2 separate regions of the Homo sapiens genome follow, and region 2 is linked to region 1. Evidence: fine-mapped expression QTL. A gene starts in region 1. The other region holds a variant in brackets. All regions are shown on one strand. Distances are between the middles of the regions.

The links. PIP is the estimated chance that this variant, and not a neighbour inherited with it, causes the effect.
Region 2: its variant is the best candidate, but not a certain one, in a credible set for the expression of BARX2 in transverse colon (GTEx, PIP 0.53).

Annotation. Positions count from the first base shown.
Region 1 is chr11:129,373,507-129,378,880 of GRCh38, forward strand. It overlaps BARX2 (BARX homeobox 2), which reads left to right and starts at 2,342. Exons shown (of 4, transcript NM_003658.5): 1 at 2,342-2,716. The coding sequence starts at 2,530.
Region 2 is chr11:129,457,835-129,463,208 of GRCh38, forward strand. No RefSeq gene overlaps it. Among named protein-coding and RNA genes, the nearest start is that of BARX2, 85 kb to the left of the region's middle. The variant T/C (reference allele first, on the strand shown) is at 2,735.

The DNA of each region.
Region 1 (5,374 bases):
CCTGGGGCCAGCCTGTAGACCCCAGAGTCCGGCGGCAGGACCCCCGGCGCCACCCGGACACCTGGCAGCAGTTCTCGCCTGCCCTGCAGCCGCCTCTGCATGGAGAAAGAGAATGAAAGAAAACAATTCTAGATGGAGAGGAGGGGAGGGGAGGCCAGTTTGCAAATACTTCGGGAATGAAGTTCCTCAAAGACGCGTTGCGGGCCTTGTCTAATGCTAGGCTGTGACTTGGCCTCTTAACATCTATTTTCTCACGCCTGTAATCCCAGCACTTTGGGAGGCGAAGCGGGTGAATCACGAGGTCAGGAGTTCAAGACCAGCCTGGCCAAGATGGTGAAACCTGGTCTCTACTAAAAAATACAAAAGTTAGCCGGGCGCGGTGACAGGCGCCTGTAATCCCAGCTTCTCGGGAGACTGAGGCAGGAGAATCGCTTGAACCTGGGGGGCAGAGGTTGCAATGAGGCGAGATCACGCCACTGCACTCCAGCCTGGGCGACAGAGTGAGGCTCGGTCTCAAAAAAAAAAGAAAAAATCTATTTTCTCTAACAGCCTAATGATTAGTCCTCTGGGCGTGTCCCTCCCTCCTAGTTTAATCACCGGCCCAGGCGCCCTCATTTACTTGCTTCCGCGGCCACCAGGGCCCCCTGGGCAAGCAGCTCCGCAGAGAGCCCGCCGGCACTCGCGGACGCTTCTAGGCTGGGAGCGGGGAGGAAATGTCACCGGCCCCAAACTCGGCCCTAGGGAAGGCCATCCGCGTCTATACTTCTCAGTGTCCCTGTCGTGCGTTTTCCTTCCAACCCCATGCACACTCATTCCAACATAAAGTCGTGGAAACGGGCGTGCACTGGGCTGTTCCCGCCGAACACCGGGCGCGACTCAGGCTGCCGGAGGCTTCCCGGGCGCGGAGGCTCGGCGGGGTCCCCTTTACGCAGCAATTCCAATGAACAACTAAAGTCCGTACAGATTTTGATTGGAACAGACCCTAAGACTAAGAGCCTGGAAAGAAAAAGGCAAATCACCCAATAAACGCCTGTCTTCGCGACTCTCTAACCCGGTCGTATCGCGAGGGATCCGGATATTGAAAGCCCCTTTGCCGGAAGACTCGGGCGCTGGGAGAAGCCCGCATGGGACAGGCTGCCCCAGTGCCCGCCGGCTCCCTAGAATCGTGCAGCTCTGACCCTTTCCAACGAGGAAAAAATGTTTTTATAAACAATGTTTTAAAAAAAACCGCACACTTTTTTAAAAAGTCAGAATCTCGCTCTTGTCGCCCAGGCTGGAGTGCAGTGACGAGATCCCGGCTCACTGCAGCCGCGAACTCCTGGGCTCAAGATTTCCTCCTGCCTAAACCTCTCCAATAGCTGGGACTACAGGTTTCCTCTTGCCTCAACCTCTCCAGTAGCTGGGACTACAGGCGTGCACCACCATGCCTGTTTTTAATTTTTCTTTTGTAAAGACAGGGTCTCCCTATATTGACCAGGCTGGTCTCGAACCTCTGACCTCAAGCTATCGTCTCACGTCGGCCTCCCAAATGTTGGGATTACAGGCTTGAGCCACCGCGCCCGGCGATAACTCACACTTTTATTAGTTTTTCTTTTCTTATCTTTTTTTTTTTCTCAGTTTTTTATGAGGGTAACGGACGGGGCCAGGGTCATTTATGATTTGGGATCTTGGGGCAGTCAAGTTTGCAACTTCAGCTCAAAAGTCTTACGCTCGGAGCGCGCAGGCTCAGCGCGGGCTGCGAGACTGCGAGTGGAGGGCTTGGGAAGCCGCGGTCTTCGGGAAACCGTCCACGCGGGGAAGGAGAAAGGCACGGTGGGTCCTCGGGGGCACTGGCTCTGTGGCCCGAAGTCCCGGGAGCCTAGTGAGGACTAGACTTCTTTCTAGTAAGAGACCTGAACGTGCCCTCCCGCTGGGCTGCGGACACTGGGAGCCGGGCCGGCGGGTGGCAGGACAGGCAGTAAGGTGCTCATGGGGAACACTGCCCCGGGGAGCTACCGGCCTGGGCCTTGGCCGCGGGCTGGGGCGGTGCGCGCTCCCCGCACCGCGCGCACACTCCTGCACACACACCTGGAGCGCGTCCCGGGGGGGAGGGGGAGGAGAGCCAAAACGAGCGTCTTAAAATAGAGAGCCAGGCAGAGGAGCGCGAGACACCAGAGCGGGAGGCAGCGACTGAGAGCCGCCGGGCACTAGGCGCGCAGGTCGGCGCCGGAGTGGCACGGGCGGGCGGGGGCGGGGTGGGCGCGGACGCCCCTCAGCACACACTCCGCACCCGGCCCTGCAGGAAGCTCGCGCTGATTGACAGCTGCGTTGTCCCAAAAAGGCTCAGCGAAGATGCTGATCTGCGGGTGGGTCTAGACGCGCGGCAGGCGCGCCCGCTACCCGCTCTCCTCCGCGCGCCACCCGAGCCCCGCCGCCTCCCCAGCTGCCGGGAGCGGGGCCCAGGCCCCGCCGTCGCGCCAGCCCCGCGGCCCCAGCGGGCCGGGCACTCGCAGCCGCGCTCGGGCCGGCGGACGCTCGCGCCGGCTCACCATGCACTGCCACGCCGAGCTGAGGCTGAGCTCGCCCGGCCAGCTCAAAGCAGCCAGGCGGCGCTACAAGACTTTCATGATCGACGAGATCCTCTCCAAGGAGACCTGCGATTACTTTGAGAAACTTTCCCTCTACTCCGTGTGCCCGTCGCTGGTCGTGCGACCCAAGCCCCTGCATTCCTGTACGGGTAAGACGCTCCGCTAGGGGATAAGTGGGGTTCGGTAGCTTTCACGTCCGTGTAGGTGGCCTGTGCTTTGCGATCCGAGGGCGAGAGGAAGGGTTAAGTTAAGGGATTCTTTTCCTGCGCCTCAGCAAGCGGTGGGCATTGCAAAGGCATCTGCGACGTGGCCGGGAAGGACCACGCAAGGTGTGGATGGCACGAGTGGAAATAAAGGCGGCAGGGCCTTAGGAGTGGGCTGCTCGCGCAACGCCTGATTGTCCTGCTCGGAGGAGAACGCTTCCTCGTTTCCTGCTGAAAGTTCAAACACTTGAGCAGGTTCAGCGTCTAAATCGTTGTTTCAGGAAGTGGTGGTGTGTGTGAATTTCAAACTTGAGCTTGGCGGCCTTGCATCTCACCTTGAGTTAACTTGTCCAGCCTCCTACTGTCTCCACTGTGAATTTTGCAAGTAAATCAGTATCCTGAGGTTCTCAACAAAATCTCGAATTCACTGAGCTTTGCTTACAATGATCGCCCTCTGAGAAAGTAGTTCTGAAGTACATTGTCTTTGTGGCACAAGCCGAAAAGGTCACCCTCGTTTGTCTTAAGTCAAGCCGAAAAGGTCACCCTCGTTTGTCTTAAGTGACCAAAACCAGCAATGGTAACAATGAAAACATTACTCACACCTGGTTTTCTCTCTTCACGGGAGGTAAGAGCAATAGTAAAGATAAAGAGAACTTAATACATATATTGAAAACGTAGTAGAGTTTCTATCGAAAATAAATCCAAGGTACTTTTAAAATTTTGAATGCATTAAGAGAAGATCCAAGTTTCAAAGTATCTCGGCATTGTTAGGATTTAGGTTATGGAACATGGGTATAATAAAACGAAAAAGAAGTAGGAGCACTTTTTATCAGAAAAAAGTTATTGAGTGTGCTTTCCATTAAAGGTAAGCATAAAGTATTTCCAAACCAAAAGAACCTTTGAGATTGTTAGTTGCATGAGAGGCATGAGATAAATTAAATTACACTTAAAATGAAAAAATGAAGGGCCAACAGTTTTGGAAGATATTTTTTGGAACATTTGAGTTGTTAATGCTCAATGCGTGGAATCCTGTATTTTCTCTTGGTTCCATTGATAGTCCCTATATGACAATCAGTAAACATATGATAAATACATACAGTGAAGTTCTTTTAAAACCAAATTGTTCCTACATGTATTTGGTTGTAAAATGTATACTGTATTCAGTTATGCCTTTTTAAAGTTAATTTGTCTGTAAGGTAGAATTAGGCCTGATGTCCCATAACAAGCCTTGTAATACTGAATTTTTAAAACCAAGAAATATATGAAACAAGGAACAAATAAGAAATTTTAGAAACAAGATAGATCTCCTGAGAACTGATATTTTTACATTTGTGTATAGGTGGTTGTGGACCCTTGGACACATACATACTGAATAGGGGTGATAAGTTGAATATTGTTTTGAGCACAAATCATCCTTTGTTATAATAACTCAATTCCCTTCGAGGAAAAAGAGAGGATCTGTTTCAGTCATTAACATTGCGTATGGGACATTCCCAGGACAAAACAGAACAACTTCTAAGCACCTAGGTAGAGCCTAGTGCCGGCAGAATTTTCAGTGACTTTGTGCTGTGTTGACTTGAAGGCAGCTTTTCCTGGCTTATAGGAGTCACAGAATTGGATCATAGAAGAAAACGTGGCAGAAGAGGAGTAATAAATAGCTGCAGAGAATAGTCATTCAGTCAGAGGTGGCTGAGTAAGTGTCGTGTTTTATTGAACCTTGTGTGGGAAATAAATCAGAGGAAAAAAAAATGATTCATATGTAGTTTTGTGAGTGTTATAAGTGAAATGCACGTATTTCACAGACTTAAGTGTTGCTCAGTCTTGTGCTTTTCGAAGTTCACTGATGGTTCGTGGTAGAGGGTGGCTGTTGGCAATGGTTTTCTGGCTCCGTTATTCCAGTACTTTCTTCTTTCGGATTGTTAGTTGAAAATGTGTCGTTATTTTGCTCTAGTTGAGAATTAAAATATAGAAACTGGGATTTGCTGGTGGAATTAAACCCATAAAAACTGGCTACAATAGTTCATACTTTCAGATCATAAGCCTTCAGTGGGTTTACAGTTACAGTTAAAGCCTTACATGTATTAGATCATGGGAATCCCATTAGTGTCTTCTCAGGGGTTTTGCAAATACCATACTTTCAAAGCATTTTTGTTTTTAACAGTTAAGGTCAGGACAAAAATCTTTGATTAGATGAATGTAATCTTTTTTCTTATTAATTAAAAACAACAACAATAAGTTGCTGGCATCCCAAAGGACACTGTAATTTTCTTCTTTTCTTTTCTTTTTCTTTTTTTTTTTTTTTTTTTTGCTAGATGGAACTAAATGTTGAGCACTGGTGGTGGAAGCAATGCATAAAAAGTTCAAGTGAAAGGCATACATTGGAATTAAAGTTACTGAACTTTCTCAGCCTTTCATTTGCTGATTTAAGATTTAAAGACGTGTAACAGAAGTGAACTGTGTCAGGTAAAATAATGAAAACTAAGAGAAAAAAAAGGCCTCAAAATTAAAAAGTTACCAGCATGTACAATAAGTGCATAAAATTGGGATGGAAAGAAAACTACAGCATTAAAAAAAAAAAAAACACTGCATAATGAAACAGTTCAT
Region 2 (5,374 bases), 84 kb after region 1:
GGTCCTGACATATTTCCAGGGGACATGGATTAGTTTTTTTCCCCGACTAGAGTGTAAATTCCTCGAGGCGTTTTTTTCAGTTTATATGTTCTGAGTTCCTTTTGCTGTGCTGAAGTCTCCAAAGCCCAAAGACAGGACTTAGAGGATCTGGATTCTCGTGGTCTCCAGCTGACTTCTGTCTTGGAGGCTTCTCCAGGAACTCAGCTTTCAGGATTGGAGCCAAAATCTCAGAATAAGCAGCAGCCAGAGACATCCTTTCCATTTTGCAGAGGGGTAAACTGGAAGAGATGGCAACGACTTGAGAGAGGGCCTCAAGGCCAACCAGGACCAGAGCCGGTGCAGCCCTGCCCTTAGAAAGCAGTGCCTGGGACCTCCTACCACCAGAAGCTCGTCAGCCACCATCCATGCCAACAAGTATTTCTTCAACATTTATTTTGTGCCTAGCCCTGTGCTAATACTATGGGAGGAAGGTGGGTGGGAGGGGGAGAAGGGGGCAAAGTAACCTGTTCCTTCCCTCAAATACACTAAAATCTTGTTGGAGAAACTTATAATCTAGTGAATTTGGGGGTGGGGCCAGGGATTCCAGCCAAGGTTTTATAATATTTACACCTCCCCTTACGCTGCACGATGGCGTTCTTTCTGGGCAAGAAAGGTGATTCATGGAAGATGCATTCCTAAGCACATCCTCACCAGGCTAAGACACTAAGAGAGGGTTCATGCCTTAGGTAGGCCTCTTGTGCCCCTGGAAGGGTGATTAACACTGGAATAAGAGGTGTTTGCTAAATTCACCTGAGTATGCCTCTAATCCCAGGTTGTTAACCAAATCCTGGGTGGAGAATGGTTTGGGACAAGCAGGCAGATCCAGATAATACTGTCTGTAATCTGGGCACCGATCCTGAGGAAAGTGGCTGCCACCAGCCTGGTTTCCCTGCCTTGCACTTTGCCTTTGCCTTACCCATGGACAGTGGATGGGGCAGCCTTCCTGCCTCCTTTTCCACTCTGCTTGCACTCCATCCAGGTGTGCTCTGGCACTGGCCTCCACCTGCTGCTCTGTGCTGTCAGCCTCTGGCATCTGCAGGTCAGCCACGGCCAGGAGGGGCCGGGGCGGAAACCGCCTGCCGAGGGGTGCTGTGTAAATCACCATGACAGGCTCCTTTCATGCCTGCCGGCCTGGCCTCCTTTCTTTCCCAAACCCTCTTCCTTTCTGTTTATTTTTGTTGCGGATTTATTAGACACACAGTTAAGTGCCCATTTAGCTCTGCAAACTGTCATCATGCCTGCTTCATGATTAAGATCATTCACTCACAAAAGCCTTTAAACATTTTTTTTAAAGAGGGTGGGGGAGGCATGGGGGACAGGAGAGGAGGAGGAAATAGTGCCCCAGGTTAGTGAGGAGGCCAAGAACAACCGAAACCCAAGCAGCGGCCTCTCCTGTAGCTCAAGAATGTAACAAGGGCCCTCACAGTTGCCCTGAATTTACCCTGTTTGTCAAGACATGTATCATCGCTCCTGCAGGATTCTGAGGTCTAGAGTTCTTCTTTGTCTGGGCTGCCAGAGAGCAGACGGTGTGGGGCGGGTTCAGTGGCTGCTGTGCACCTGCTCGAAATGGTTCCCAAGAACCTCTGGGCATGTCAGGCCAAATCTGTGCCCCTTTGGGATCCTCAGTCAATTTCCTCAATCCAAACTCTCTTGGTTTTCCCAGGGCTTCCCTCCTTCTGGTGGCATCTCTTCCCAAGCACCTGGCTCCTTAAACACACAAATTGCTCAGCTGAAAGTAGCAAGAGTCCTAAGTGTGGTGGCTCACGCCTGTAATGCCAAACACTTTGGGAGGCTGAGGTGGGAGGACTGCTTGAGCCCAGGAGGCTGAGGCTGCAGTGTGCTGTGATCATGTCACTGCACCCCAGCCTGGGCAACAGTGCAACCTTGCCACACACACACAAAAGGTAGCTAGAGCCTGGTCCAGTGTCATTTTAATGCATGTAGACTATATATCAGGCACCAGAACAAGGAAGTTCTTTATATCATCACGTTTCATCACCTCAGCAGCCCTATGCAGTAGGTCCTATTACTGTCTCCATTTCAGAGGTGGGGAGACTGAGACTTAATGTGGCTAGGTAACTTGCAGAGTTATCAACACAGCTGGGAGGTTTTTTATCCTTATATTGGGCCTGTGCTTACCTCCAAGGAGTCTGAGTTGGCCAAGCCTGATCTCAGAGCAGAGTGCCGAGGCAGGCTGACCCTGCACCCCCCAGCATGGGTGGGTGCCCCTGCCCCTACACTGCTGTAATGGGGCCATCTCTCACAGCCTACTCTCACTGTTTAGGGTGCAGTCCTCCCCTCGAGTGTGAATGATCAAGCCCTCCATCCACTCACCTGTACTAGCAACAAGTCTGGGTTCCCCGCCACCTCTTTGGTTGTGTATCAGGGGGTCAGGAACATTTGAGGGCATTGGAGTGTGTTGGCACGTGCACTGACCTTGGGAGGGGTGCCAGCCTCTGGAGGAACTTGGAGGGTGAGCCCCCATCTGAAGCACAGTAACAGGACAGCGTCCTCACTGTGGTGCAGCAAGCCTCGCTAGGGTACATGGCTTCCCACATCAGAGCAGGAGGGGCACAAGTGGAAGTTTGAACCTCAGTAGATGCTCCTGGAATGCCAAGTCCTCTGTCCAAGCTGCAGATGAGGATGCTGCCCCTTCTCAGCCATTGTCGCAGTGACCGCTGAGGTCTCAGTAGCC[T/C]TGGGGCCCTGGCTCTGGCCCCAGGATCACTTGGCTTCTGCTCCTTAAAGGCCCGGAGCTACTCTTCCTTTCGCTGCTCCCCCATCTCTTTTTCTTCTCTGGTTTCTCTTTTGGCATTTCTTTTTATTTGCAGTGTGTTTTCAATGCAAATAAAGTCCATAATATGAAAAAGTTACTATGAACAGAGCATAATTACACACATACAATGAACAGTCAAAACAGATGTTCCACAAGCAAATATGAACCAAGAAGGAGTGTTCATTCACCCATACAGAAGCTTGGGATGTGTTGGAGCTGGTTGTTTTGTATTGCTTTCTAAGGATGGCAAATATTTGCTTTTGTTATCAAAGGTACTATGCTTGCTGGGCCCTGGAACACCAGTGCGTGGTCATGGGAATCAGAGACTTCAATGGGTGCATATTTCTAAAGGCTTTTGCCCTCGGAGGCAGCTGTAAAAAACTTTCCAGAATTGAGCCAATTCTAGACTTAGTGGCAGGATCTGACTATTTAAAGCATCAGCTGATATAGAGTGCTCCAAAGACAGCTAACTTTATTCATAAAGGTGAAAAAAAGTATTTATAGACATAGCATACCAGAATTTTTGGGAGGTGAGTTTCCAATGTTCAATTTACTTTATTTTTGACATTTTGAAAATTAAATAAATCTTTTACAATTTTACATATATTTTACATATGTTGAAATAAAAAGCTCTAATTTAAAGTTATTTGGGGTCATATTCCTGTAGCTAAAAGAATCCAGCCCTCTTTTGGTGAATGGGGATGTGTGAAAGGAAATATCTAACTTTTGACCTTTTTAACACATAAACCAGATTTAATAACTAGCCTTAGACTTTGAGTAGCTTCCAGTCCATCATTGCCCTGGCACATGTCAATTACTTACAGCAAGTTAAATGCAAAACCCTAGAAAAGACAATTTAGTTCCCAAGAGAACAGTAAAGGCTTAGCAATGGAAAACTTTAGAGCACATGAGCACTAAATTAGCATTGCTGAAACAATATGAAACATGGAAACTTTTCATATTATCTAAGACTTTTATAAAGCCTTATAGATTTCATAAGCCAAAGTGAAAACTGAATCTCCATTCCACATCCTATTCTTTTACTCTAGATCAGAGGAAGTCTTCTGATTTTTATTCCCAAGACAGAGCATTTAGATGTCCAAATTTCCTGAGCCATATTTAATAAATTTACATCTCCTTTCAGTCTTGAATGAAAAATTCCATTTGCCTGATTTGTCATAGGCATCCACCATCCAATTAAATCCCTCTCCAATCACATTTGGGATTCTCAATATTTTCCTAATCATATTTATGTCAATAAAATTAAAGTGTGTGACGCCTCCATCTTTGTTCTTTTTGCTCAGGATTCCTTTGGCTACCCAGGCTCTTTTTCAGTAGCAAACGACTATTAGGATTGTTTTTTCCATTTCTGTGAAAAATTTCATTGGTATTTTGAGGGAGAATCTATAGATTGCTTTGGGTACTGTGGTCATTTTAATGACATTAATTCTTCTGATCCATGAGCATGGGATGTCTTTCCATTTGTTTGTGTCCTCTTCAATTTCTTTCATCAATGTCTTGTAGTTTTCCTTACAGAGGTTTTTTTTTTTTTTTTTTTTTTTTTTGCCTCCTTAGTTAAATTTATTCCAAGGTATTTTATTTTATTTTTTGATAGCTATTATAAGTATTGTAAGTGGGATTGTCTTCCTAATTTCTTTTTCAGCTAGTTCATTATTGGTGTATAGAAATACTACAGATTTTTATAAGTGAATTTTATATCCTGCAACTTTACTGAATCTGTTTATCAGTTATAAGAGGTTTTTGGTGAAGTCTTCAGGGTTTTCTAAATGTAAGGTCATGTCATCTGCAAAGACGGACAGTTGCCTTTTATTTCTTTCTCTCATCTGATTGCTCTGGCTAAGATTTCAAGTACTTTGTTAAATAGTAGTGGTGAAAGTAGGCATCCCTGTCTTGTACCAGTTCTGAGAGGAAAGGCTTTCAGCTTTTCCCATTCAGTATGTTGTGTGCTATGGGTTTGTCATATATGGCCTTTATTATGTTAAGGTATATTCCTTCTATGCCTAGTTCATTGAGTTTTTCTCATAAAGGGATGTTTAATTTTATCCAGTGTTTTTCTGCATATATTGAGGTGATCATAGAGTTTTTGTCCTTCATCCTATTGGTGATGTATAACATTTATTTATTTACATATGTTGAACCATCCATGCATTCCTGGTATAAATCACACTTCATCATGGTGTATTATCTTTTGATGTGCTGTTGGATTTGGTTTGCTAGCACTTTGTTGAGAATTTTTTTTTTTTTTTTTTTTTTTTTGAGACAGAGTCTCGCTCTGTCGCCCAGGCTGGAGTGCAGTGGCGGGATCTCGGCTCACTGCAAGCTCCGCCTCCCGGGTTCACGCCATTCTCCTGCCTCAGCCTCCCAAGTAGCTGGGACTACAGGCGCCCGCCACTACGCCCGGCTAATTTTTTGTATTTTTAGTAGAGACGGGGTTTCACCGTTTTAGCCGGGATGGTCTCGATCTCCTGACCTCGTGATCCGCCCACCTCGGCCTCCCAAAGTGCTGGGATTACAGGCGTGAGCCACCGCGCCCGGCCGAGA